7 linked regions of the Homo sapiens genome follow. The protein of the gene in region 7 purifies or fractionates together with the protein of the main gene of each other region. This does not show direct contact. Each region holds a gene or a part of one and is shown on either strand. Other genes may lie near its edges. The genes, in order: ALDH7A1, TCEA1, AKR1A1, SPAG7, SERPINB2, COX15 and SLC25A32.

What was found.
Region 1: the proteins of SLC25A32 (region 7) and ALDH7A1 purify together in Homo sapiens (affinity purification with mass spectrometry; one large-scale study listed by BioGRID and IntAct). This does not show direct contact.
Region 2: the proteins of SLC25A32 (region 7) and TCEA1 purify together in Homo sapiens (affinity purification with mass spectrometry; 2 studies listed by BioGRID and IntAct, with this or other methods). This does not show direct contact.
Region 3: the proteins of SLC25A32 (region 7) and AKR1A1 purify together in Homo sapiens (affinity purification with mass spectrometry; one large-scale study listed by BioGRID and IntAct). This does not show direct contact.
Region 4: the proteins of SLC25A32 (region 7) and SPAG7 purify together in Homo sapiens (affinity purification with mass spectrometry; one large-scale study listed by BioGRID and IntAct). This does not show direct contact.
Region 5: the proteins of SLC25A32 (region 7) and SERPINB2 purify together in Homo sapiens (affinity purification with mass spectrometry; one large-scale study listed by BioGRID and IntAct). This does not show direct contact.
Region 6: the proteins of SLC25A32 (region 7) and COX15 purify together in Homo sapiens (affinity purification with mass spectrometry; one large-scale study listed by BioGRID and IntAct). This does not show direct contact.

The regions. Positions count from the first base shown.
Region 1 is NC_000005.10:126,550,220-126,554,063, forward strand, and holds part of ALDH7A1 (alpha-aminoadipic semialdehyde dehydrogenase isoform 1 precursor), read right to left. Parts: intron 3,180-3,844; exon of another isoform or gene 3,083-3,179; intron 1,919-3,082; coding exon 1,802-1,918; intron 75-1,801; coding exon 1-74.
Region 2 is NC_000008.11:53,977,085-53,981,270, forward strand, and holds part of TCEA1 (transcription elongation factor A protein 1), read right to left. Parts: intron 2,088-4,186; coding exon 1,941-2,087; intron 1,614-1,940; exon of another isoform or gene 1,439-1,613; intron 1-1,438. Other genes in the region: LYPLA1-TCEA1 readthrough, read right to left, coding at 1,941-2,087.
Region 3 is NC_000001.11:45,563,799-45,567,984, forward strand, and holds part of AKR1A1 (aldo-keto reductase family 1 member A1), read left to right. Parts: intron 1-2,770; coding exon 2,771-2,890; intron 2,891-3,070; coding exon 3,071-3,222; intron 3,223-4,183; coding exon 4,184-4,186. UniProt on the Homo sapiens protein: Catalyzes the NADPH-dependent reduction of a wide variety of carbonyl-containing compounds to their corresponding alcohols.
Region 4 is NC_000017.11:4,958,258-4,961,989, reverse strand, and holds the end of SPAG7 (sperm-associated antigen 7), read left to right. Parts: intron 1-1,136; coding exon 1,137-1,204; intron 1,205-1,442; coding exon 1,443-1,531; intron 1,532-1,671; coding exon 1,672-1,756; intron 1,757-1,878; coding exon 1,879-1,968; intron 1,969-2,073; coding exon 2,074-2,230; intron 2,231-2,346; coding exon 2,347-2,456; 3' UTR 2,457-2,764; downstream 2,765-3,732.
Region 5 is NC_000018.10:63,900,745-63,904,772, forward strand, and holds the end of SERPINB2 (plasminogen activator inhibitor 2), read left to right. Parts: intron 1-995; coding exon 996-1,138; intron 1,139-1,659; coding exon 1,660-1,824; intron 1,825-2,156; coding exon 2,157-2,561; 3' UTR 2,562-3,144; downstream 3,145-4,028. UniProt on the Homo sapiens protein: Inhibits urokinase-type plasminogen activator. The monocyte derived PAI-2 is distinct from the endothelial cell-derived PAI-1.
Region 6 is NC_000010.11:99,721,634-99,725,819, reverse strand, and holds part of COX15 (heme A synthase COX15), read left to right. Parts: intron 1-1,696; coding exon 1,697-1,864; intron 1,865-4,186. UniProt on the Homo sapiens protein: Catalyzes the second reaction in the biosynthesis of heme A, a prosthetic group of mitochondrial cytochrome c oxidase (CcO). Heme A is synthesized from heme B by two sequential enzymatic reactions catalyzed by heme O synthase (HOS) and heme A synthase (HAS).
Region 7 is NC_000008.11:103,398,138-103,402,308, forward strand, and holds the end of SLC25A32 (solute carrier family 25 member 32), read right to left. Parts: intron 3,918-4,171; coding exon 3,804-3,917; intron 3,525-3,803; coding exon 3,379-3,524; intron 2,410-3,378; coding exon 2,274-2,409; 3' UTR 501-2,273; downstream 1-500. UniProt on the Homo sapiens protein: Facilitates flavin adenine dinucleotide (FAD) translocation across the mitochondrial inner membrane into the mitochondrial matrix where it acts as a redox cofactor to assist flavoenzyme activities in fundamental metabolic processes including fatty acid beta-oxidation, amino acid and choline metabolism as well as mitochondrial electron transportation.

The sequences.
Region 1 (3,844 bases), on a different chromosome or scaffold from region 7:
AGATCTTTGGTAAAGATGCTACTTGAAAGTCCCTGTTTTACTTCATTATTCCATGCAAAGACCTCTTCTTCATTCTAAAAGGAGAGACATTGGAAGCTGTAAGATGTTATAGTGTTCAAGTCAAAGTTCACTGACATTAAACTCATTTCCTGAAGTGTACCAGTATAATTTCAGTGTACAAAAGGAAACCAAAGAGTCAAGTTTACTCACTCTGTTTCTCTTATAATTCAGATCATTGATAATAAGTAAAAAATTTTGGGATTTTTCCCCTAATTATCAGAAACAAATATTAACACATTCTTCCTTTCATTCAAGCTACTACATATAATAGCTAATATCTATTGAGCTCTTACGTGTGTAACACACCAATCTAAGCACTTAACATGCATTTAGTTATTTAATCCTCATCCTATAACACAGGTTTCCTACTACCTCCCAATTTACAGATTGGGCAACTGAGGCCTACAGAGACTAATTTGCTCAAGAGCTCACACAGCCTCATAATGTACACAAACACATTACAAAACACAAAATTATATTCTCTAGTCCCCATACGTGAAACAATGATAGGCAATTTAAAGCAAGAAATAAAGAAGCAATGATGTAATTGCAACAAGATGCAATTCTCACTATTATTTTACTGTTAATAATGGTACATTCAAATATTGATTCAATCTCTGCAGTCTCAAAATTAATCCTAAATATTTACTGGCGAGGCTAGGGCCCGTCTCAAGCTAGGGAATGAGATCTTCTAATTTATCCACCTGTGTGGGTTTTTTGGGTTTTATTTATTTGTTTGTTTTAGAGACAGGATCTCTTCCCACCTCAGCCTCCCGAGTAGCTAGGACTATAGGTACATACAACACCTGGCTAATTTTTTAATTTTTTTGTACAGACAAGGTCTCACTGTGTTGGTCAGGCTGGTCTTGAGCACCTGGCCTCAAGTGATCCTCCCAAAGCACTGAGATTACAAGCATGAGCCATTGTGCCCAGCTTCTTCACCTATTAAAACCTTTACAGTTTGAGATCAAGATATGAGATCAGGGAAAACAAAACAAAACTCCGCAGCCTGTCCTCTGCTGGAGTTTATAACTATAGGTCTTTTTTTTTTTTGAGATGGAGTCTCACTCTGTTGCCCAGGCTGGAGTGCAATGGTGCGATCTCGGCTCACTGCAACCTCAGCCTCCTGGGTTCAAGTGATTCTCCTGCCTCAGCCTCTCAGGTAGCTGGTATTACAGATTACAGGCGCCCAACACCACGCCTGGCTAATTTTTTTGTTTTTTAGTAGAGACGGGGTTTCACCATGTTGGCCAGGCTGGTCTCGAACTCCTGACCTCAGGTGATCTGCCTGCCTCACCCTCCCAAAGTGCTGGGATTACAGGTGTGAGCCACCGTGCCTGGCCAACTATAGGTCTTTGTATTACCCCCACATGTTCTCATTTTGTCTGCTGACATGTTCACAGCACTCAGGCTATCAAACTATCCAGTACCACGGTTCAGGAGAAGGTGACTCTATGGCCTACACAGCCCAGGATTAAGATGACACAGGAAATGAGGACCACACACTTCATAAACTCCAACACTGGTCCACTACCCAATCTGGTTTCCCTGGCAGCTAGCTTGGCATGCTATAGAGTTTTAAAGTGTTTATCTCATATTTTATCCTGAACCTTCATATATCTACTATTCAGATTACTTTCTAAAACCCTCTTAAAGGTTCATCCAGTGAAATTTAATCCACCATCATTTTCCTCTTATCATTTATTTCAACATCAGGCTAGCGAACAGAATGCATTTTTACCTTGAATTTAAAGACATAGAGAATCGGAGCAAAAGTCTCTGTGTGTGCAATGGACGCATCGTGGCCAAGACCTGTCACAATTGTCGGTTCTACATAATTTCCAGGGCGATCCATAACCTAATGCAGAGAAATGAAATAAAAAGAATGAAAGCATTTTGTTTTCTAGGACTTGGGGTCAGAGGATGCAATCTTTGCCTACATTTATAAAGAAAAAAATTAGCATCATTTATAGGTGAATTATTTCTCCAAAATAACTTCCAATCATGAAAGAAAATTCTCTCTTCCTGATATTGGTTCTAACTTAGTTGGTCAGAGAAAAATGGAAATAAGGAGTCAGGCAGGGATAGAGAGCCATGCCATGTGACACAACCAAGTTATGTTGAACAAACACTGCTGCAAGCGGTTATTTTCACTCAGCCTGTAGTGCAATGGCTTGATCTCAGCTCACTGCAACCTCCGTCTCCCGGGTTCAAGCCATCCTCCCACCTCAGCCTCCCAAGTAACTGGGACTACAGGCATGCACCACCATGCCCAGCTAAATTTTTTTTGTATTTTTAGTAGAGACCAGGTTTCACCATTTTGGCCAGGCTGGTCTTGAACTTCTGACCTCAAGTGATCCACCTGCCTCAGCCTCCCAGAGTGCTGGGATTACAGGTGTGAGTCAACATGCCCGGCCACAAACAAATCTTTATATGTGGGGGGTTTTTTGTTTTTGATTTTTTTTTTTTATTATTTGGTTTTTTGTTTTTGATTTGGTCTTGCTTTGTTGTCCAAGCTGCAGTGCAGTGACATCATCATGACTCATTGCAGCCTCGAACTTGTGGGCTCAAGCAATCCTCCCACCTCAGCCTCCCAAGTAGCTAGCACTACATGTGCATGCCACCATACTCAGCTAATTTTTTTTTGAGACAGGGTCTCACTATGTTGTCCAGGTGGGTCTTGAATTCCTGGCCTCAAGCAATCCTCCCACCACAGCCTCCCAAAGTGCTGAGATTGCAGGTGTGAGCCACTGCACCTGGCAATATGTGTTAATTTCTTTTTTAATGCTTATGATATGTATTTTTTTATTCCTTGCCTTAACTGACTTTTTAAAATAACCAATAAATAGATTATAATTGCTCTGAATACAAAGTCTCCTACTGTACTTGAAAAGGAATTTTCCTTTCCATACAAATATTAAGGACCCAATTCAAAAGCAACCATGACTCCGTTTCTTCTATGTCCTTCCAGAAATGTCCCATGCATTTTCTGCTGTCTTTTTTTAAAATATGGAATACTTTTTAAAATACGGATATGAATTTGCATATCATCATTGTGCATAAGCCATGCTAATCTTCTCTGTATCTTTCCAATTTTAGTATATGTGCTGCCAAAGCAAGCATTGTTGTCATTCTTTAAAACGTGTATTTCTGGCTGGGCACGGTGGCTCACGCCTGTAATCCCAGCACTTTGGGAGGCCAAGGACAGTGGATCACGAAGTCAGAAGTTCCAGACCAGCCTGGCCAACATGGTGAAACCCCTTCTCTACTAAAAATACAAAAATTAGCTGGGCATGGTAATGGGTGCCTGTAATCCCAGCTACTCGGGAGGCTGAGACAGGAGAATCGCTTGAACCTGGGAGGCGAGGTTGCAGTGAGCTGAGATCACGCCACTGCACTCCAGCCTGGGCAACAGAGCAAGACGCAGGAGCCTGAGGTGGGAGGATTGCTTTAGTCCAGGAGGAAGAGGGTGCAGTGAGCTGAGATCGTGCACCACTGCACTCCAGCCTAGGTGGCAGAGCAAGACCCTGTCACAAAAACAAACAGAGCCAAGTGTGGTGGTTCATGCCTGTAATCCCAACACCTTAGGAGGCCAGGGTGGGTGGATCACTTGAGGCCAGGAGTTAGAGACCAGCCTGGCTAACATGGGAAACCCCATCTCTACCAAAAAATATAAAAATTAGCTGGGTGTGGTGACATGCACCTGTAATCCCAGCTACTCGGGAGGCTGAAGCAGGAGAATCACTTGAACCTGGGAGGCGGAGGTTGCCGTGAGCCAAGATTG
Region 2 (4,186 bases), about 49 Mb from region 7:
TGAGACAGGCAGATCACGAGGTCAGGAGATCGAGACCACCCTGGCTAACACAGTGAAACCCCGTCTCTACTAAAAATACAAAAAAATTAGCCAGGCGTTGTGGTGGGTGCCTGTAGTCCCAGCTACTCGGGAGGCTGAGGCAGGAGAACGGCGTGAACCCGGGAGGCGGAGTTTGCAGTGAGCTGAGATGGCGCCACTGCACTCCAGCCTGGGCAATAGAGTGAGACTCTGTCTCAAAGAAAAAGGAAAACAAAAATATTTGCATGTATACACATAAAATACCTAAGTTTCACAACAAACTAGTAACCTTGCTTTACTTTCAGGGAGGGAGAACGAGGTGGCCACAGGCAAAAGTGGGAATGGAATTTCCTACTCATAAACTTTTGTACTTTTTCAATTTTTAACCACAAAAATAACTACCAACAAAATTTGTTTTAAGTAAAGGCCCCTTTAGAGTTTAGTGATGCTATTTTTTAAGTGCTTAATGTTCTATCGGTGAAAAAATCAATTCCCCAAATCTACTATCTGAAACATAGTAAGTTGTCCCTTAAGGAGACAATCTTGAGTTTACAGCAGATAACATAGCACAAAAACCTATTTGGCAAATGAAATTAAGACAGTGATAAAAAAAATTTTCACATATGCACATGCAACCAAAATAACTATAACACGGTTTTCAGCTGTTAAAGAATAAAAAGGCTAGTCATATCGTACATAAATGTAAGTTATCAATATTACAAAAAGGAACAAATTATCCAGAAGACAGTTAAGCCTAAAGTACTCATAAGCCATGTGGAGGAGCGTGAAGAACTTTCCTTAAATTATATAGTCCTGCAAAATAAAAAGGATTATGGCCAATTTACCTAGTAACCAATACAATTGCTTATGAACTTTTAAAAAAGAACATGGTCATTTTATTAATTCTTATATTTTATAAATTTTGACATAGCTTTCATAGTAACTATTTCTGTGAAAGTATAAATATATCAACTTGGTTTTAGTTAACTAGAATCAGTATTAAGAAAGCATTCTGACAAGGCACAGAGGCTCATGCCTGTATTCCCAGTACTTCGGGAGGCCAAGGTGAGAGGATCATTCGAGTCTGGAAATTTGGGATCAGCCTGGACAATGCAGCAAGACCCCATCTCCGCAAAAAAATAATAATAATTTTTTTTAAAAAAAATCATTCTTACACTTAAGAAAGAAATCTTATCTCCTCTTGAACTAGTCCCCAGTTATCCATGGTTTTGCTTTCCATGGTTTCAGTTATCTATGGTCTGAAAATATTAAATGAAAAATTCCAGAAATAAACAATTCATCAGTTTTAAACTGTACATTGTTCTGAGTAGCATGAAGACAGCCTGTACCATCCTACTCTGTCTCACTTGGAATACAGATCATCCCTTTGTCCAGTGTGTGTCACTGTAATGCTACCTACCCATTAGTCATCCACATCATCAGGGCTCGATGAGGCAGGACCACCTGAAGCAGATGAGCCTCCTTCTGATGGATCATCAGAAGGTCAACAGCAGCCTAACACTTAGTCACAATGCCTACATCATTCACTTCGCCTCATCTCATCAAATGAACAGGGGTGAGTACAGTGCAAGACACTGTGAGAGACAGAAAGACTACACTCATATTACTTTCATAACAGTATCTTGTTATAATTATTCTATTTGATTAAGTTATTATTGTTAATCTCTTCCTATGCCTAATTTATAAATAAAACTTATCAGTACATATGTATCGGAAAAAACGTGGTATACATAGGGTTAGGTACTATCCGTGGTTTCAGGCATCCACTCAGGGTCTTAGAACATATCCCTCCATGGATAAGTGAGGGACTATCATACTGGTAATTATCTTTGCTATTTATTTTAAAACAGGAGTTGCAAGCATTTTTATATAAAAATAAGAATCTATAAACAATCACAAACCTGTGTGTAAGTGCAATTCTTCTTTTTACATTTGCCACATGTGAACAAGTCAGTCTGGGTCCCACCAGTCTTGGCCATCTGATGCTCTCTGATGGCTTCTTTGGTCAAGTTTTTCCGCATCTCTTTCAGCTCATCACTAGCCATTTCCTATGAGGTAGGGGGCAATACCACTCAGTTATAGACACCTTCTATATATATCCTGAATGCTTTTATGCTCAATTAGCCTAATAATAATAAAACCACATATCAACCTTTAAGGTTTTAAAAGCATTAAATTAATATTTTTCCTCAAAGGCTTTGTAAGAGTTTAATTCCTTTTAAAAATTTCTTCAAATACTTAAAAGTTTACATGTGAAAATTGGATTTAAGTACTGTTTAAAGGCTACTAAAACCACCTTTGCAAAGATTATGACAGTGAGAGAAATTGAACATGGCTGACTCCATCTTGCTTCTAGTGTCACAGGCTGGCTGTCTTCCCTCTTTCCTGGGCACAGGCCAAGTTAACCATGGAAGGAATTTAGTTTAACTTTGATGCAAAGATGGTAACAGTCCTTCCCTAAAATCGATCCCTCCTTGTTCAGAGCCTGAGATCACCTTTGTTAAGACTAATGAAATGCCAGAGGATTAGGATTATGGGACAGGCCTGAACTCTGCTAAAATGTAGACATAGTTTCTATAATCCCTCACTGCTCAGGAGTCATGTGGCCAGAGGACACAAAGTGTGTGACTTCCCCAATTGCTCCTATAGGTAACATTATTATTGTAGAACCTGAGATTGGTTTTTTGAGATGTTTTTCAGACTGACCCCTCCAGAACTCAGGCCCCTCACCCAGAGGTACAGAAGGACCAGTTCCCACATCCCTATGATTGCATCCCCAATCAATCAGCAGCACCCATTCCCTAGTCACCTAGGAATAGTTACCACCAAACTATTCTTGTAAAACCCTAACCTCCAAGTCTTCAGGGAGACTAATGTGAGTAATAACTTCGTCTCCTGCATGGCCAGCCTTGCATTAATAAAACTCTTTCTTAACCGCAATAGCGCAGTCTCAGTGAATTGGTTTTGTCTGTGTAGTGGGCGGGAAGAAGCTGTCAGGTGATTACACTATGAACAATGTAAACTTACAACGAGTACCTCTAGTATCCAGATTATAGTTTCTAATAGCATTGCCTACACCCCACTCCCAAAAGAAGTCAGGGATCTCTGGAGGAATGCCTGATTCCAGTTTTGAGGCAAGAAATGTATAGAATATGCCAGGGTCATCTTCTCACGCCAGTTTTTACCAGCTACAGTCATACTTTGCTTTATCTTGCTCTGCGCTATTGTGCTTCATTTTATTGCACTTTGCAGTTACTGCATTTTTTACAAATTGAAGGTCTGCAGCAATGCTGTGTTGAGCAAATCTATTGGCGCTATTTTTCCAAAAGCATGTGCTCATTTCATGTCTCTGTGTCACATCTTGGTAATTCTCACAATATTCCAAGCATTTTCACTATTATTATATCTGTTAGGTAATCTGTGATCAGTAATTTCTTATGTTACTATCACTGTTTTAGGGGCACCACTAACTTTGACCACATAGGACAGTAAGCTTGACAAATGCTGTGTGTGTTCCGACTGCTCCACTCTTTCCCCGTCTCTCTTCCTCTCCTTGGGCCTCCCTACTCCCTGAGACACAACAATATTGAAATCAGGCCAATTAATAACCCTACAATGGCCTCTAAGTATTCAAGGACAAGGAAGAGTCAACATGTCTCACTTTAAATCAAAACCTAGAAATAAGACTAAGTTTAGTGAGGAAGGCATATGGAAAGCTGGGATAAGCCAAAAGCTAGGTCTCTTACACCAGTTAGCCAAATTGTGAATGCAAAGGAAAATTTCTTGATGGAAATTAAAAGTGCTACTCCAGTGAACACATGAATAATGATCAAAATAGCCTTATTGCCGATATGAAAACGTTTTAGTGGCCTAGACAGAAGATCAAACCAACCACAACATTCCCTTAAGCCAAAGCCTAATCCAGAAAAAGGCCTTAACTCTTTAATGCTGAGAGAGATGAGGAAGCTGCCGAAGAAAAGTCAAGAGGCTACCAGAAGCTGGTTCATGAGGTTTAAGGAAAGAAGCTGTCTCCATAACATAGTACAAAATGCAAGGTGAAGCAGCAAGTGCTGATGGAGAAGCTACGGCAAGTTATCCAAAAGATCTAGCTAAGATCATTGATGAAGGTAGCTATTCTAAACAAAGA
Region 3 (4,186 bases), on a different chromosome or scaffold from region 7:
AATAATAAAATAAATAAGTAACCACTTAAAAATATAAATGTAGTTCTTAACTCAAGAACTGTTAAAGTTGATAATTGACTGACCCCTGGTGTAGACCATCCCAGCTGAGGGGAGTCTGGGAATATGGACCTGCTCTCTCAGGGTGGACGTAGCTATGAGATTTGGCTCCTGCCTGGAATGGGGCATTTCCCCAGGGCTTCTTCCTTCTTCCTTGGAAATCTTGAGTCAGAGTGAAGAGAAGTTTGGGGATTAAGTTTCAGAGAAGCCCCAGCAGAGAGAACAGATTCTTCTATCTGGGATTTAGACTGATGTTTGTGGTGTGCTTGGATGACCTGTGTCTCTTTTCCCTTTTGCTTTCTTTCCTATAGCTGCCAAGGAGCCTGGAGCCAGGGTCCCTGTGCTTTAGGCAGGCACTTCTCACAGCCTCGGAGAAGTCCAGGAGCTAGGTCAAGGCAGAGGGTTGGGGGCCACAGACAAGGCCAAGGCGGGGCATGGAACAGCAGGGGTCAGATGTTAGGGGAAGTACGTCGGCACCCGGGTGGGGATCTTGAATACTATGTCAGGCACCCACAACAAGAGCTTTGGGTGCTTTGTGTCTAGGGCCGGGTACCCTTGTTTCTGCTGCTGATGCCGTGTTTCCAGTCTGGATTTTAGCAAAATTAACTGACCCATCCTTCTATCTGATGCCTGTTTTCTTCTCTCTCATTAGGGAGTTCTGGGTCCAGCTTTTAGCCCACTTATCTGCCTCCAGCTTTCAGCCTACTTATCTGCCTTCCTTAATCTTTTCCCCCTTCTAACCTCTTTTGCTGGCCTGTGCTCCCAGAGTTCCCAGAGTCTGTCTACACAACTCCCTGTATGTCCTTGGCCTAGGAATTTTTTCCTGTGTTTCTCTAACCAGCTCCTTAGAACCTGGAACTTGTTTCCATGGTCTATACTTCTTTTCTCTATTTATCCATCTGTCTTCTGATTGAAAAAAAAAATTATTTATTTTTGAAAATTTTTAAATTTTTATTTATTTATTTATTTATTTAATTTTATTTTTGAGATGGAGTCTTGCTCTGTCGCCCAGGCTGGAGTGCAGTGGCGCAATCTCGCCTCACTGCAAGCTCCGCCTCCTAGGTTCACACCATTCTCCTGCCTCAGCCTCCTGAGTAGCTGGGACTACAGGCACCCCCTACCACGCCCAGCTAATTTTTTGTATTTTTAGTAGAGACGGTGTTTCACCGTGTTAGCCAGGATGGTCTCGATCTCCTGACCTCATGATCCACCCACCTCAGCCTCCCAAAGTGCTGGGACTACAGGCGTGAGCCACCACACCCAGCCATTTTTTTTTTTTTTTTTTTTTTTTTGAGAAGGAGTTTCACTCTTGTTGCCCAGGCTGGAGTGCAATGGCATGATCTTGGCTCACTGTAACCTCCACCTCCCAGGTTCAAGCGATTCTCCTGCCTCAGCCTCCCAAGTACCCGGGATTATAGGCATGCACCACCACGCCCAGCTAATTTTGTATTTTTAGTAGAGACGGGGTTTCTCCGTGTTGGTTAGGCTGGTCTCAAACTCCCGACCTCAGGTGATCCACCCACCTCGGCCTCCCAAAGTGCTGGGATTACAGGTGTGAGCCACCGCGCCTGGCTTTTATTTAAAAAAAAAAATTTGTTTTCAATTTTTTGTTGTTATTTTTTTTGTGTTTTTTTGAGACGGAGTCTCACTCTGTCTCGCCCAGGATGAAGTGCAGTGGCATGATCTCAGCTCACTGCAGCCTCCCCCGCCTGGGTTCAAGCGATTCTCCTATCTCAGCCTCCTGAGTAGCTGGGACTACAGGCATATGCCACCATGCACAGCTAATTTTTGTATTTTTAGTAGAGAAAAGAATTTCACCATGTTGGCCAGGCTGGTCTCAAACCCCTGACCTCAGGTGATTCACCTGCCTCTTCTTCCCAAAGTGCTGGGATTATAGGCGTGAGCCACCACGCCTGGCCTTAATTTTTTTTTTTTTTTTAAAGAGGTGGGGGTCTCACTATGTTGACTAGGCTGGTCTTGAACTTCTGCCTTCAAGCAATGCTCCCATGTCAGCCTCCCAGAGTCCTAGGATTACAGGCGTGAGCCACTGTGCTCAGCCTGAAAAAATATTTACTGAAGCCCTCTTTATGGTAGATGCCGGGAAAATATTGTTAGTTTTTGCTAGACCTTGCTGAGATGGCTTGGGTAGGAAGGCATCTTAGAGACTGGTTGGGGTGGGAGCAGAGCAAAGGGTTTGGAGCCTCTGAAGAGGCTTCTGGTCCCTTAGACTGAAACCATCTTCCATCTTTTTTTTTTTCTTTCTTTGTTTTGAGATGGAGTTTCGCTCTTGTTGCCGAGGCTGAAGTGCAGTGGCACAATCTCAGCTCACTGCAACCTCTGCCTCCTGGGTTCAAGTGATTCTCCTGCCTCAGCCTCCTGAGTAGCTGGGATTACAGGCACCTGCCACCACACCTGGCTAATTTTGTATTTTTAGCAGAGATGGGGTTTCACCATGTTGGCCAGGCTGACCTCCAGCTGGCCAGGCTGGTCTCGAACTCCTGACCTCAGGGGATCTGCCCACCTCAGCCTCCCAAAGTGCTGGGATTACAGGCGTGAGCCACCGCGCCCAGTTCATCTTCCATCTTTTCACCTCCACTGCATAGATGTGCCTGTTATATTTCTGAGCCCCCTTCCCCCAGCATTGACCTTGGGGTGGTGACAGTAGAAGGCTGAAACCAACATAGCTGAAACCTCTGCTTCTCTCACCTGGCAGGTAAAAGCAGCTGTTAAGTATGCCCTTAGCGTAGGCTACCGCCACATTGATTGTGCTGCTATCTACGGCAATGAGCCTGAGATTGGGGAGGCCCTGAAGGAGGACGTGGGACCAGGCAAGGTAAGGACTGGGGTTGTAAATAGAGGTGGGATAAGAGAACTTAGAAGCTGAAGCTAGGGCTGGGGCCCAGCTGGAGGGAATCTGGCATCAGCTTCCTTCCAGTTCCTCTCCCAGAGTTGAGGGTGGGTGAGACCACGTGCTCATGGCTCTTCTCACTGTGGGCCCTGCCCCCTGCACTAGGCGGTGCCTCGGGAGGAGCTGTTTGTGACATCCAAGCTGTGGAACACCAAGCACCACCCCGAGGATGTGGAGCCTGCCCTCCGGAAGACTCTGGCTGACCTCCAGCTGGAGTATCTGGACCTGTACCTGATGCACTGGCCTTATGCCTTTGAGTGAGCCTTGCCAGAGCCTCATCTGGGGAATCAGGGGGTTGAGCAGGATGGTGTTAGTAACTTATTGTAAGTCACAGCAGCAGAGCAGGATAGGAACACTCATTTGCATGCCAAGCTGAGGAGCTTGACATGGGATCTTAGCCTCTTCTGCTACAGCAGCTTAGCTGTAGCTACAGGAGTTTAACTCTGGAAAAAGGAAGGCAGTCTCACATGGTGTGTACCCCAGGGTATGCACCTGTAACCCTCCTGCTCCCTTTATTCATTTAGAAAAGGTGCTGACTTTTCTGTTGAGCACCTGGGGTTACAGTAATAAGTAAGTCTCAGCAGAAGATGTGAGAAGAGCTCACCATTAGTGCCGTGCCCTGTGCTGGAAGAAGGGTGGATAACTCCCTGAGGATGAGTTAAGGAAGACTTCCTAGGGGAGAGGAGATATCTACGTCTAGGAAGAGGAGGGGGCATAGGCATTCCATGTAAACTTAACACCTGGGTTACGATCTGGAAGGATGAAAAAGCATGGCTTTTTTTGGCCAGGCGCGGTGGCTCACGCCTGTAATCCCAGCACTTTGGGAGGCTAAGGCGGGCGGATCACGAGGTCAGGAGATCGAGATCATCCTGGCTAACACGGTGAAACCCCGTCTCTACTAAAAATACAAAAAATTAGCTGCGCGTGGTGGTGAGCGCCTGTAGTCCCAGCTACTGGGGAGGCTGAGGCAGGAGAATGGCGTGAACCCAGGAGGTGGAGCTTGCAGTGAGCTGAGATAGTGCCACTGCACTCCAGCCTGGGCGGTAAAGCGAGACTCCATCTCAAAAAAAAAAAAAAAGAAAAAGCATGGCTTTTTAAAAATTCTTGGCCCTTTGTCCTCTCTGGGATTGGAGTTTGGGACATAGAGTGGCTGGATGGGCAGGTAGGGTAGAAGCCTGGCATTTGTGTCCACACTTGGTGGGGCTGTCTCTCACTCAGGCG
Region 4 (3,732 bases), on a different chromosome or scaffold from region 7:
ACTTCAGGGTCTCGCCTGGTGCCAGATACAGTAGTCCCTACTTCTCCCTTATCCAAGGTTTTGCTTTCCAAGGTTTTAGTTACCTGCAGTCCAGAACTGTTATATACAGTAAGATATTTTGAGAGAGAGAGAGAGCATAGCCACAAACTTTTATTTCAGTACATTGTTATAATTGTTCTATTGTATTATTGTTATTCTTAATCTCTTTTTTTTTTTTTTTTTTTTGAGATGGAGTCTTGCTGTGTCGCCCAGGCTGGAGTGCAGTGGCGCCATCTCTGCTCACTGCAAGCTCCGCCTCCCAGGTTCACGCCATTCTCCTGCCTCAGCCTCCCGAGTAGTGGGGACTACAGGCGCCCACCACCACACCCAGCTAATTTTTTGTATATTTTTTTTTTTTTAGTAGAGACAGGGTTTCACCGTGTTAGTCAGGATGGTCTCGATCTTCTGACCTCATGATCCATCCACCTTGGCCTCCCAAAGTGCTGGGATTACAGGTGTGAGCCACTGCACCCGGCCATCTCTTTTTTTTTTTTGAGACGGAGTTCACTCTTGTTGCCCAGGCTGGAGTGCAATGGCGCGATCTCAGCTCACTGCAATCTCTGCCTCCCAGGTTCAAGCGATTCTCCTGCCTCAGCCTCCCCAGTAGCTGGAATTATAGGCGCCCACCACCACACCCGGCTAATTTTTGTATTTTTAGTAGAGATGGGGTTTCACCATGTTGACCAGGCTGGTCTCGAACTCCTGACCCCAGGAGATCTGTCTGCCTCGGCCTCCCAAAGTGCTGGGATATAGGCGTGAGCCACCATGCCTGGTCTATTATTCTTAATCTCTTACTGTGCCTAATTTATAAATTAAACTTTATCATAGGCATGTATGTATAGAAAAAGACATAGTATGTATAGGGGTCAGTACTATCCACAATTTCAGGCATCCACTGAGGGTCTTGGAATGAACCCCTGTGGATAAGGGGGACTATTAGATAGAATAAACATCAATAAATGCTTGATGAATAAACGCTAATCCTACCTTCCCAGCCTGACACCTCCCAGTGGACACCACACTTCACTTGAAGCCTTAGAAACCTTTCCCACCCATGCTTCCAGCCCTGGCTTCATGTTGCCATTTCTCACCCCCAGAACAGGCCGCCCGCCTGAAGAAACTACAAGAGCAAGAGAAACAACAGAAAGTGGAGTTTCGTAAAAGGGTGAGAACAACTGGAGTGATCAAAGGCAGACTCAGGAAGGACTTCCAATAAGTTAAAATTGGAAGGTTGAGGACTCAGTTTTGCTGAAAATGTCTTGAGAGAGGTGACGCATGGAAGCCAGTGGCTTGGAGGCTGGGGAGGGTGCTGGGGAGGCGTAGAAGGGCCCAGGCTCAGCTAGGGAGAGGGGTACTTGGGTGGAGCCATTGTCTCATATCTGCTTCCTTTCCCCTCTCCCAAGATGGAGAAGGAGGTGTCAGATTTCATTCAAGACAGTGGGCAGATCAAGAAAAAGTTTCAGCCAATGAACAAGATCGAGAGGAGCATACTGTGAGTGTCCCTGGGCTGGGGGAGGAAGGAAATGGGTGGCTAGCGGGGCATGAAAGGGCCAGCGGGGGGCTCCTCCAGAGGAGGGCACTAGGCCCGCTCCTGGCTCAAGATGCTCTTTCCCCTCTGCCATCCCATCCCAGACATGATGTGGTGGAAGTGGCTGGCCTGACATCCTTCTCCTTTGGGGAAGATGATGACTGTCGCTATGTCATGATCTTCAAAAAGGTAAAGGGCCTGAATTCCTCATTCTCTCCTCTCCCCTTTGTAGCCTTATCCCCCCTCCCCGACCAAGGAATGAAATGAAACATTTGTATGGACTCTGACCCCATCATTCTGCTCTTCTTCAGGAGTTTGCACCCTCAGATGAAGAGCTAGACTCTTACCGTCGTGGAGAGGAATGGGACCCCCAGAAGGCTGAGGAGAAGCGGAAGCTGAAGGTGAGCTATGCTTTGCAGCCCTTGGGGTCCAGAAGCCCACCACCTGGGAGGGGTGGGGGTTTGGGCTGGGGCCCTGAGCACCAGTGCCCCCACTTTCACCCCTAGGAGCTGGCCCAGAGGCAAGAGGAGGAGGCAGCCCAGCAGGGGCCTGTGGTGGTGAGCCCTGCCAGCGACTACAAGGACAAGTACAGCCACCTCATCGGCAAGGGAGCAGCCAAAGACGCAGCCCACATGCTACAGGCCAATAAGACCTACGGCTGTGGTGAGGCCACAGTGCGGCTGGGGGTGGCTGGGAGAGGAGCATAGGATGCGGCAGGAGGGCAGTGGAGGCTGAGGTACGGATTTCTAGGCCCGCCCTACCCTCCTCTCTGCCCCTAGTGCCCGTGGCCAATAAGAGGGACACACGCTCCATTGAAGAGGCTATGAATGAGATCAGAGCCAAGAAGCGTCTGCGGCAGAGTGGGGAAGAGTTGCCGCCAACCTCCTAGGCGCCCCGCCCAGCTCCCTTTGACCCCTGGGGCAGGGCAGGGGGCAGGGAGAGACAAGGCTGCTGCTATTAGAGCCCATCCTGGAGCCCCACCTCTGAACCACCTCCTACCAGCTGTCCCTCAGGCTGGGGGAAAACAGGTGTTTGATTTGTCACCGTTGGAGCTTGGATATGTGCGTGGCATGTGTGTGTGTGTGTGAGAGTGTGAATGCACAGGTGGGTATTTAATCTGTATTATTCCCCGTTCTTGGAATTTTCTTCCCCATGGGGCTGGGGTACTTTACATTCAATAAATACTGTTTAACCCAATGTCCTGGTTTGTTTATACACAGAAAGGTGGGTCCTGGAACCACTGGTAGAGAAGAAGGGGAATAATTTTCAGTTGAACAGCATAAAATTGCTGTTTGTGTAGGTTAAAGATGGCCAGTTGGAACTATCAGAGGTTTTTTGTTTGTTTGTTTGTTTTGAGACAGAGTCTTTCTCTGTTGCCCAGACTGGAGTGCAGTGGTGTGATCTCGGCTCACTGCAACCTCTGCCTCCAGGGTTCAAGCGATTCTCCTGCCTTAGCCTCCTGAGTAGCTGGGACTACAGGCATGTGTCACCACACCCGGGTAATTTTTTGTACATTTAGTAGAGATGGGGTTTCACCATATTGGCCAGGCTGGTCTCTAACTCCTAACCTCAGGTGATCCGCCCGCCTCAGCCTCCCAAAGTGCTGGGATTGCAAGAGTGAGCCACTGTGCCCGGCCCAGAGGGTTTTGTAAGATGCTGTATTTTAAGAGTGCAATCGGGCTGGGCATAGTGGCTCACACCTGTAATCCCAGCATTTTAGGAGGCCAAGGCTGGAGGATCACTTGAGGTCAGGAGGTCAAGATCAGCCTGGGCAACATAGTGAGACTTTCTCTCTACAAAATTAAAAAATTGGTTGAGCGCAGTGGCTCACACCTGCGATCCCAGCACTTTGGGAGGCCAAGGCAGGAGAATCGCTTGACTCCAGGAGTTTGAGATCAGTCTAGGCCACAAACCTTCTCTACAAAAAGAAAATAAAATATACAAAATTTAAAAATTAGCCATACCTGGTGGTGTGCACCTGTAGTCCCAGCTACTTTGCAGGCTGAGGCAAGAGAATTGCTTGAGCCCAGGAGTTTGAGGCTACAGTGAACTATGATCGCATCACTGCACTCCTGCCTGGGTGACAGATCAAGAAGCTGGCTCAAAATAAATACATGAGAGTATAATCGCTGGAGTCAAATACCTTGGCTTTGGATCCTAGCCCT
Region 5 (4,028 bases), on a different chromosome or scaffold from region 7:
CTAGCCCTCAATTTGGCCTGGTGTCTAAAACCTGCCTCCAGAGTCAGGTCCCACCTCCTACTTCAAAACCACATTGACCTATTAATTTGTTAAGAGTCTTGTATTTGTCAGTAGTTTTGACTGTGGAGGCAGAATTTTTACAAGCTTACCAGCATTGTAACGTTGGGAAGACTGCTAACCTGGTGGTGTCCTTTTGCATAAAATGACACTAATAAAACCCACCTAATAGAGTATCAAAATAATATATTTTGATGCTTGGAATACTGCAGAGCGAGTACTAACTATAAACAAACTGCTTCTTAAACCAATTTCATTTTTTTAAATGACCACACTCATTTGTCATTGTTTCTGTCAATCTTCTCGGGCTTACTCCTTCACTCCCTTCTCTGTATGATCATAGTACTCAATATATTATTTAGCTCAATTACAGAAGTTATCACACAGGGTTTCACAACTGATTTTGAATGTCTCCCCCAGTGTTCTAGGCTCATCCAGGATAATTCTTCCTTTCTCATCTCTTGTATCTGCACTACTCTTAATTTAGGTCTAGTATATTTTTTACAAAACGTTTTTGAATAAATGAGTAAGTCAGATCCTCAGACTATCTAGACCAGATCTAGCAGTACATGATATATTTTGGAAAGGCACTATTATATTCCCTAAGAACCTCTCTTTCACTTCCCTCTGATTTGAATAACTTTCAACTGCCAAGCTTTGAGAAAAGAATATAAAAGGGAGTGAAAATCTCCATTCCAAACTTGATAGGCGGTCTAAATTTTAAATGCATTATTTCTTCATTTTTTCTTGGATTTTGCAAGCTTTTGGGAAATTTGTTTCAATTTTAATTTTGCTTTAAATAAACCTAAAAAACTTTAGCTTGAAGATTAACAACTCTGCAATTTGAAGAATTTAGTTTGATGGCTACTCAGAAGATTCAGTAAGTAATTTCACAGTTCTTGATTATGAAACCTAAATATATGTTATGTTTTCTGTAGGCAAAATCCCAAACTTGTTACCTGAAGGTTCTGTAGATGGGGATACCAGGATGGTCCTGGTGAATGCTGTCTACTTCAAAGGAAAGTGGAAAACTCCATTTGAGAAGAAACTAAATGGGCTTTATCCTTTCCGTGTAAACTCGGTATGAGACAACAAAATACATCTTCCTAGCATATATTTTAGGGCTTTTGACAAGATATAGACAGAAAAATTAGAGACCGCTCATTATAGACTTGCTAGTTAGAAGTTATGCATGTTGGACAGTTGATTGACTCTTTAGAAACAGTATAGGTAAAGGGGAAGACTGTGGCTTTTTAATTATACATGCCCAGACTCCAACGTTGGCTCTACCACTTATTTCAAAGGGCTGTAAATATTGAGACATGGCACGGTTCCTGGCCCATAGTAAGAACTAAACAAGTGTTTTAGAATTATGGTTGTCATTACCATTGTTGTCCATCTTACTAAATAATGGGTATAAAGTTGAACAAGCTAATAACATCAGAGTACCCACTGTAAGGATGTACAAATAATTTATTTTGTTGATTTAAAAAAATCACATTTATCCTACACTAAAGTAGAACCAATCCTCCTTTATGTCTAATTGTAAATCTCTTGATATCTTATAATCGACTTCCATATTTTACCTTTTAATAATATTAGGCTCAGCGCACACCTGTACAGATGATGTACTTGCGTGAAAAGCTAAACATTGGATACATAGAAGACCTAAAGGCTCAGATTCTAGAACTCCCATATGCTGGAGATGTTAGCATGTTCTTGTTGCTTCCAGATGAAATTGCCGATGTGTCCACTGGCTTGGAGCTGGTAAGACATTCAGATATTTAAGTTTCTGGGGCTATACCTACCTTTCGTGAGATGAGATGAATATATACTCCTTACAAATGGTGTGGTAATTTCTCATGGAAATATATGAAACAGTTGATAGTAAATATGGCATGCCTCTACATTTCATTCAAAGCCTTAACTATGTCATACGTGTTACCTTCTTGTAAAAATCTGACCAATCTGTTAACTTTCTATATCACCCACAATATAGTAAAGTCACTGATTTTTAATATTAGACTTAAAGTTGTTTTCCTTCTTTCTAATACTTGCTGTATTTTCTTTTGTTTGTTTTGTTTTGTTTTGCTTTGCAGCTGGAAAGTGAAATAACCTATGACAAACTCAACAAGTGGACCAGCAAAGACAAAATGGCTGAAGATGAAGTTGAGGTATACATACCCCAGTTCAAATTAGAAGAGCATTATGAACTCAGATCCATTCTGAGAAGCATGGGCATGGAGGACGCCTTCAACAAGGGACGGGCCAATTTCTCAGGGATGTCGGAGAGGAATGACCTGTTTCTTTCTGAAGTGTTCCACCAAGCCATGGTGGATGTGAATGAGGAGGGCACTGAAGCAGCCGCTGGCACAGGAGGTGTTATGACAGGGAGAACTGGACATGGAGGCCCACAGTTTGTGGCAGATCATCCTTTTCTTTTTCTTATTATGCATAAGATAACCAACTGCATTTTATTTTTCGGCAGATTTTCCTCACCCTAAAACTAAGCGTGCTGCTTCTGCAAAAGATTTTTGTAGATGAGCTGTGTGCCTCAGAATTGCTATTTCAAATTGCCAAAAATTTAGAGATGTTTTCTACATATTTCTGCTCTTCTGAACAACTTCTGCTACCCACTAAATAAAAACACAGAAATAATTAGACAATTGTCTATTATAACATGACAACCCTATTAATCATTTGGTCTTCTAAAATGGGATCATGCCCATTTAGATTTTCCTTACTATCAGTTTATTTTTATAACATTAACTTTTACTTTGTTATTTATTATTTTATATAATGGTGAGTTTTTAAATTATTGCTCACTGCCTATTTAATGTAGCTAATAAAGTTATAGAAGCAGATGATCTGTTAATTTCCTATCTAATAAATGCCTTTAATTGTTCTCATAATGAAGAATAAGTAGGTATCCCTCCATGCCCTTCTGTAATAAATATCTGGAAAAAACATTAAACAATAGGCAAATATATGTTATGTGCATTTCTAGAAATACATAACACATATATATGTCTGTATCTTATATTCAATTGCAAGTATATAATAAATAAACCTGCTTCCAAACAACAATACATTTGTTGTCATTTCATTAGGTCTGCAGATCATAGACCTTGACTCCTAGGAGTTGAGCATTATGACTCACTTGTGAGAACTCAGAAAAAATAGACAGGATGAAGGAGCCAAGGACATAACAACCTTCATTCAAAAAGACCCAATGTTGAGGGTCAGTGGGATGGGGTTGTATGAAAAATGGGTTAGAGCTGCTTTCTCACAGCAGCAAAGACATAGCAATTCAGAATAGTCTAGGTTAGAGTCCTTTGGGGAAACCACTGTCTAAACATTAAGGACACCAGGATTAATGACCAAGTCCAGTGGTCCAGACACAGAAGAAGGCCTCAGTCATTGAGCTCAGAGTTGCAAGCAGTGAAGATGGGAGATGGGTTGGGTGCAAGAGCAGGAGGGGAAACATAAGATGGCTCTTTCTAAGTGTGTTTGTTTCTAATAGCAGTAATGCTTTTGAATGAGTCAGAGGCAGAGGAGAACATAATTGAAGACCTGAGAAATAAGGCAAATTGTAGGTTGGGGGCCTGAACAACAGAGTCTGGCTGCAGAAGTGCGGCTGGATCCTGGAAATGCAGCACACTCCCTTTGATGGCAGGCAGGGATGCTTGATGCACTAGAACATGGTAGCTAAAAAAGTGGCCTCAAGACTTAGACTCTCTGCCTCCAAATCCCAGTTGTAACACTTACAAGTAGCTTCAACACAGGCCAACCATGGTGCTTCTTTGTGCTTCAGTTTTCTCTCAGTGAAAACTAAAGAAAAAACTGTTTTTATCATATTGCTATAATGACTAAATGAGTTCATATATATCCAGCAATTAAAAGAATACTTGGCATATATAATATTTAATAAATATTAGTGATTATGATCTATCTTATCTTTGTCAGTAATA
Region 6 (4,186 bases), on a different chromosome or scaffold from region 7:
CCCAACACTTTCGGAAGCCAAGGTGGGGGATCAGGAGTTCCAGACCAGCCTGGCCAACATGGTAAAACCCTGTCTCTACCTAAAATACCAAAATTAGCTGGGCATGCTGGCGTGGGCCTGTAGTCCCAGCTATTTCGGAGGCTGAGGCAGAAGAATTGATTGAACCGGGGAGGCGGAGGTTGCAGCGAGCTGAGAGGTTGCACCACTGCACTCCAGCCTGGGCAACAGAGCAAGACTCTGGCTCAAAAAAAATAAATAAAGAAAGAAGGGATTAAGGAGGGAGATGAGAGAGAAGAAATAGAGGCAGCAGAAACAATAATCAAAGTCTAATAGTAACCAGAGAAAGGCATGTAGAACAAAATGAAAGTTAACATTTTAGAATTAGAAAAACAAGCCAACACTGAAAACACTATTAGGGAGGCAGAAATTAAAGATGTCAGATAAGGTATGGGAGAAGAAAGTGGGCTAGTGAATCAACTGTGTACGTCTTCATCTTTCAATGTCTCTTGCAGATGAAATCAAGGTAATTAGAATATCCAGGGTAATCTTGAAAGGGGAGAGAAATGCCCAAAAAGATTTCCTGAAGAGTATATATTTAGAAGTGGCAGAGTCCACCTCTTTGACCTGATTCTACTGGCAAGTGGGAGTGAAAGGGCTGTCTTATTTCATATGATTGGAACTAACAATTGTTTGGTTAATTGAAAAAGCCAGTTAAAGCAGAGAATCATAGAATATGATACATAACATAAACTTTTAAACTTAAATCTGTACGTTCATTACCAACTTTTACAAAATCAAGGCCTTTTCTTTGACTATGCGTCCCCAGATTGGCATTCAACTGCAGGTTTCTTATATCCCCATAAACTGTGGTTTTGCTTAAAGCGGAGTGGGAACTTAGATATTTGCAAAGCGATCTGCATGCAAAACCTTATTGATTTTTATGATTTTCCCCTGAAACTTTTATAATTGTCTTATTCCAACCTAACTTGACAGTAGATGTTTTTAAGCATTTACCTTTATTAAGTTTCTCCAAAACATTCAATCTAGTTTTATGAGATATATCCATGGACCTTTTTTTTTTTTTAAAGCTCATCAGCTACTGTTAGTGTTAGTGTATTTTATGCATGGCCCAAGACAATTCTTCCAGTGTGGCCCAGGGAAGCCAAAAGATCAGACACTTCTGATCTAAATAGTAGTTAAGTATTAATGGTGATATGTGAAGAACTGTGGATAAATCATGAATCTTGGGACACTGCGTATTGGGGAGGGTATGGAAAGAGGAGGGGTGGGGTAGAGAGTACTCCTGATAGCTCATTTCCTCAGTAAAGTTGAACAGATCAGGCCGGGTGTGGTGGCTTACGCCTGTAATACCAGCACTTTGGTAGGCTGAGGTGGGCGGATCACGAGGTCAAGAGATTGACACCATCTGGCCAACATGGTGAAACCCCATCTCTACTAAAAATACAAAAATTAGCCAGGCGTGGTGATGCGCAACTGTAGTCCCAGCCACTTGGGAGGCTGAGGCAGGAGAATCACTTGAACCTGGGAGGCGGAGATTGCAGTGAGCCAAGATCCCGCCACTGCACTCCAGCCTGGTGACAGAGTGAGACTCTGTCTCAAAAAAACAACAAAAAAAAGAAAGTTGAACAGATCATTTTAACCTTGTTTTGTTTGCTTCATCTCTTGGGGGTTCTAGGGTCTGTTGGGATGGTATATGGTGAAAAGTGGACTAGAAGAAAAATCAGACTCCCATGACATCCCTCGGGTCAGTCAGTACCGCCTTGCTGCCCACCTGGGATCAGCCCTGGTTCTTTATTGTGCCAGCTTGTGGACCTCACTGTCACTGCTACTCCCTCCGCACAAGGTAAGAGTTGTGTGCAAATATCTGTGTTCAAGACCCCGCTTTTGGTTCTTTTGGATATATATCTAGAAGTAGAATTGCTGGATCATATAGGAGTTGAATATTTTGCCAACATTTTCTATTGGCAAAGGTGAAACAAATTGAAAAATAGAGTGGGAGGGAGTACCAACAACAAGAAATATCCCAGTCGCTTTACCTCTGACTCCTAGAAGGGATGGTGGATGGCAAAGTGAGAAAGATCAGAACAGAGGTGTTTCTGAACTTCTGGTGTGGACAAGAGCTATATTGTTCGTTAAATGGGGACCTGCCAGTTAAGTCTAATAGTAAACCTTAGTGATTTTGTCTGAAGTATTTTTCTGTCTGCTGATTAAAGCAAAGTACTAGTTTTTCATTTTATGCTTTGATTTAAAAGCAAGGTATAACATTTTTTTGAGGCCTTCATTAATAATAGAGGTTCCAAGACACCACACCCTTATAGGACATTTTTTTCCCTAGAATTTTTTTTTAAATGAGTCTTGGCCAGGCGCGGTGGCTCACGCCTGTAATCCCAGCACTTTGGGAGGCAGAGGCAGGCAGATCACCTGAGGTTGGGAGTTTGAGACCAGCCTGACCAACCTGGAGAAACCCCATCTCTACTAAAAATATAAAATTAGCCAGCCATGGTGGCACATGCCTGTAATCCCAGCTACTCGAGAGGCTGAGGCAGGAGAATTGCTTGAATCCGGGAGGCAGAGGTTGCAGTGAGCTGAGATGGCACCATTGCAGTCTAGCCTGGGCAACAAGAGCGAAATTCCATCTCCAAAAAAAAAAAAAGAGTCTTATATTAGGTATTGAAATCATGGGTTGACCTGAGTAAGCTGTTCCTGGAGAAAAGTTTGAGATGACAGCAGGACTCTTAAGTCGAATCATCCATTAGGTACTTGGAGCTAGTAGCTAGATCCCAGTAAGGACTGGACGTGTTGTCTTGGCAGTCATTCCCACAGAGAAGCCAAATTGGGTTGAAATATTGATACAGTAGACAACCACTGAATAATTCCACATCTGAAAAATAAGGAATTATTTGAAAGTCTCCTGACTTTCAAAGCCAAACTTCATTTATTTACTTATGTATTTATTTATTTATTTGAGATGGAGTCTTGCTCTGTTGCCCAGGCTGGAGTGCAGTGGTGTGACCTTGGCTCACTGCAACCTCCACCTCCCGGGTTCAAGCAATTCTTCAGCCTCAGCCTCCCGAGTAGCTGGGACTACAGGCGCACACCACCATGCTCGGCTAATTTTCTGTATTTTTAGTAGAGACAGGGTTTCACCATGTTGGCCAGGCTGCTCTTAAACTCCTGACCTCAGGTGATCCACCCGCCTCGGCCTCCCAAAGTTCTGGGATTACAGGTGTGAGCCACCGTGCCCATCAAAGCCAAACTTCTAAAATGAATTCATTTTAATTCAGACTTCTAAAATGAATTCATCTTAATGAATTCATTTTGCCTGCATCTATAGCTGCTGCTTCCTGACAATCTATTCCTTCTTTTCAGTCCCTGTAATTATCTTCCTCACCCAACCCAATACATACACACTCACACATTTACCCACACTTACACATAAACCCACACACTCTTGCTACTGAAATTGTACTCTTAAAGGTTACTGATGACTTTATCAATTGTTTTTCTCTGTTAGTTTAGATTCACCTAATTACAAAAAGGATTTGAGATGCTACCCAATGAGCCATATAGTGCTATGCTGTCCAACACAGTAGCTACTAGCTACATATGGCTATTTAAATTTTAACTAATTAAGGCTGGGCACGGTGGCTCACACCTGTAATCCCAGCACTTTGGGAGGCTGAGGCGGGTGGATCATTTGAGGTCAGGAGTTTGAGACCAGCCTGGCCAACATAGTGAAACCCCCATCTCTACTAAAAGTTAAAAAATTAGCTGGGCAATAGTGGCGCGCACCTGTAATCCCAGCTACTTGGGAGGCTGAGGCAGGAGAATCGCTTGAGCCTGGGAGGTGGAGGTTGCAGTGAGCCAAGATTGTGCCACTGCACTCCAGTCTGGGCGACAAAGTGAGAAAAAAAATTTTTTTAATTAAATAAAATTTATTTACATAAGCTTTTTGTTTATTTAAACTTTATATTTAAATAAAATTAATTTTTTATTTAATTTTCAGTCATACTAGCCACATGTTTCAAGCTCTCCTTAGGTAGATGATAGAACTTTTCCATCACAGAAAGTTCTATTGGACAGTGCTGATATACTGTCCTATAATATGTTAGTAATGATACCTAACTTTTCATATAGTAGAGTGTAAGCCATTTGAGGGTGGCAT
Region 7 (4,171 bases):
TCACCCATCCCCTCTAGCCAACTTAATTCCTCCCTCAGGCCCTTTTTACTTCCTGTCCTCTCTGCCTAGAATGTGTTTCCTCTCACTGTGGCTCGCTTCCTCACTTCTTTCAAAATGTTCCAAATACTATCTCAGAGACCTTTCCTGACCCCAACCATACTACCTAAGATAGCAACACTATTCCCCCGTTCTGCTGTAGTTTTATTTATAGCATTAAATACCTGAAATTACATTATGCATATATTTCCTTTTCTGTCACTTACACCAAGATGAAAATTCCCTGAGGGCAGGAATATTGTCTGGCTTATTTATTGCTATATCCTCAGTGCTTGGTGACGTACCTGCCAAAGAGCAGGAGTTGAGTGACTATTTGTTGTTGAATGACTGAAATTGAGTTCTCTTCTGTCAGAACTCTTACCAGGCTTTGTGAGATATTCCTTACGAGTTCTTAATCTATAGCTGTAATTATTTAATGCATATTTATCTATCACACAAGCTTGTATGCTCTCAGAGGACAAGAATTATGTTTTATTCATTTGGGAGTACATAGGCGGTATTTAAACAATGGTGCTATCTTAAACACCAAATATCAACTGCAGTTCACTTTTTCCGTGTGGGGACTAATATCAAGATTTCATATGAATTATAGTATAATCCAGAAGTATGAAAAAATACATCATATTTAACTTATAAAGCATTCATCTGCATGTTATAAGATATTACAGTAAATACAATTAGGTACTTACCATTTTATCTTTACTTTAAAAACAATGCCTTTTCCAAAATATAAAAAAAAGACCTATTTTTAAAGAACTATTTAAAGATGGCTTTGAAAACAACACTTTTATTTACAACAAATAGATGGTAGTGCAACAGCACTCGTGGATGTTTACGATAAATAAAAATACTAGTATTCTGGCATCCTTTGGGTACAGGCCCTTTTATATTTATAGATGTCTACAATGACTCATAAAAGTAAAATCAATAAAGGCTATTAATTTGTATTTCAACCTGAATTTGAGAAACCAATGAAGATTAATCATTTATTTGGGATCTAGATCCATATATCTGAAAACTGAAGTATAAAGTTTCTCATTTCCATTTACCTTGTCAACAAACATATCCCAAACATTTCAGCATCTGTAAAAGGTGATCTATTTAGCATCTGTAATAAGTGATTTATAGTTATATATGCTAAATAAAGGTTGACACAGCTGGATCCTAGAAGCTCAGATTTTATAAATTTAAAATAGATTAAGTATTTATGCCAAAAAACAAGAACTGGATCTAGGATTTTATTTTAAATTATGGAAGTCTCTGGGGAAAAAAAATAGCAATGGAATGACAATAGATGTCAGATATTTCTCTGAGAAGTATATAGTTTCTCAATTTTCGCTAGGTAGTGCATCCCAACTGAATTAAAACTAAAGCATATTTACAGTGCATTTTTTCTCACTAAAATTTCCCAATTCTAAAATGGTCTGGCCAGGCGCAGTGGCTCACGCCTGTAATCCCAGCACTTTGGGAGGCCAAGGCAGGCGGATCACAAGGTCAGGAGATTGAGACCATCCTGGCTAACATGGTGAAACCCCATTTCTACTCAAAATATAAAAAAAAGTTAGCCAGGCGTGGTGGCAGGTGCCTGTAGTCCCAGCTACTCAGGAGGCTGAGGCAGGAGAATGGCGTGAACCCGGGAGGTGGAGGTTGCAGTGAGCTGAGATCACGCCACTGCACTCCAGCCTGGGCGACAAAGCAAGACTCCATCTCAAAAAATAAATAAATAAAAAAATAAAATAAAATGGTCTGGATTTGGTCAACACCTTATTCAGTAAATCCTTAATTTACCTTGAGACATACAAAGACATTCTTTTAAAGAGCTATTTTCTTGGTATTGCACAAAGGTTAATTTTAAAGCAATCCAGGCAAGTAAGCTCACAAAAAGAAGTACATTCATCTAATCCATTTAGCAAATGTTGCAAATCAGCTTCCACCAATAAAACGTAGAAATCTGTGAAACTCTATCCTTCGTGTCAGTTTTAACATTGTGTTGATGGCAGCCATTTCAGGCAGAGGTAGCCAAGTTCCATATATATGGGGAAGGCAAAAAGCAAGAAAAACATTGCAGGAGACTTAGCAGTTCTCTGGCTTCTAATGACTATAGAGCAATTTCGAATATGAGCCATGTTTCTATGCAGAATTCTTCTTTTATGCCTTAAACACAAAAGAGCTTGTTGCTGCCTTGGGCAGATATACTGGAATTGTCCTCTTTGAGCTTACTTTCTCTTTTCTCTAAGGTCAAGTAAAAAATGTGAGACGTTTTCATATACCACAAAGGTAATACAGCAGGCTGGAGTCACTCTAATCAAATTAGGAGCAATTCCCTTGTAAAATCCACCGACGCCTTCTTTCCTTTAGAGGGAAAAATAGATAATGCTTAATTTTGTATAGAGCTAGCTTGAAAACACGGAAGTTCTAACTGACACAAGGCATGGAGCAAGCAGCAGTCAAACCTTACTCTGATTTAAGTTCATGTTTTCAATGTCCTAAAGTAATGTAGTTTATAAGCCATCTGTAGGGATTTACATTCCTTTTATGGATGGACTGAGTAAGAGAGGGTAGGGACACCTCAAAACTGAACTAAAAAGTGCTTTCAATTAGCTATCTTTCAAATGCTTTTAAATGTATGTACAAGCAGGAGTTTTAATTGACCTAATGTAGGCATTAAAAAACCTCATAGCTTGGATAAATGCTAGCCAACATTAAATACAGCACATACAAATATAAAACTTTATTTCCTTAATGCCAATAATATGGAATACGGCCTAGAAATTTGTCACTTAGGTGCTCATTAAATATTTCTTGAATTGAATTAAATTTAAACATCCTAAATGTTCTCCTCTGTTCCTTTAGAATTAAAGGGAAATATGGTGATGTCTGCCTATAATAATTTAACTAGTCTCATACTGAAGAACAAACATCTCTTTCATATATGGAAACAAGTATTTGCAAAAGTTATGGTGCCAGTAGCAGGTGTGGAGCCTTCTTGAATGTATTAAGCTAGTCTTATGACTTCTTATATTCAATACCATTCAGATATTTTATAACACCTAAATTTTATTTTCCAAAACATTTTCACACATTTAATTTGATTCTTATAACAACCTATTAGTTAGAAAGTCTTACTTTACAAATGAAGAAATTAAGTCTCAGAGAGATTAAGGCCATGGTCACATACGTAATAACTGGGAAAGCAGGGACCACCAATCATGTTTTCACCACAGCAAACTGGCCTTTGCTATAAAACTAGTATCAACAGGATGGTCTAAGATATGCAAGGTACCTTGTCAAAGCAATTTTTGATATAGCACGTGCTCTCACCTCCATGTCTTTGTGATTACATCTATTACACCACTGTAAAACATGTGTTGATCCTGAAGACGAGCTCTTACGACTTGATATGGGTATGTTGCTGCGACAGCAAATATTTTGGATAGTGCTGCAACAGATATATATTCTACTGTGCTCTAAAATGGCAATACAAAACAGTTTTTTCTTTAGACAGGATTTCTTTAAAAATACAGAAGTAAAAATTATATACAAAAAACATTTAAATGGATCTTTAAGGGATTCTATTTTTGACATTTGTGTGGCTTCAGCCTATAAATATTTAACTATAAATTAAATCAGTGGCAGAGCCAGTACTCATCATCATAGCACTACCACCAAAGTAAGCATGACAAAAATTTCTACCTATTAAATACCCATAAAAGGAAATGATATCATTTTTACAAGAATAATCTTACCAACTGGGCTTCTGGTAATCTATTGATATGCTGGTTGTACTTCAACTTCAGCAATTCATATGCCATAAACTGAAGGGCACCATGCGATGTTCCAAACAGCCCAGGAACAAATCCCTACAAGGGAATGATTTTTAAAAAGCAAAACAACATACGTTTGAAGAACAATATATTTAAGTAAAATACTTTCTCTTCTCTCTCATTACAGCACTTTAAGCAAATTCATTTAATTTTGCACAAATCACATTTTTAAAATATGGGGTTAAAAACTTGTAATATAAAGACATGGGTAGTATTCTCTTCTACTTTATTTTTAAAGGTTTGGATGTTCACATATTAGTTTTTCTTTAAACAGTATACATATAAAGAAG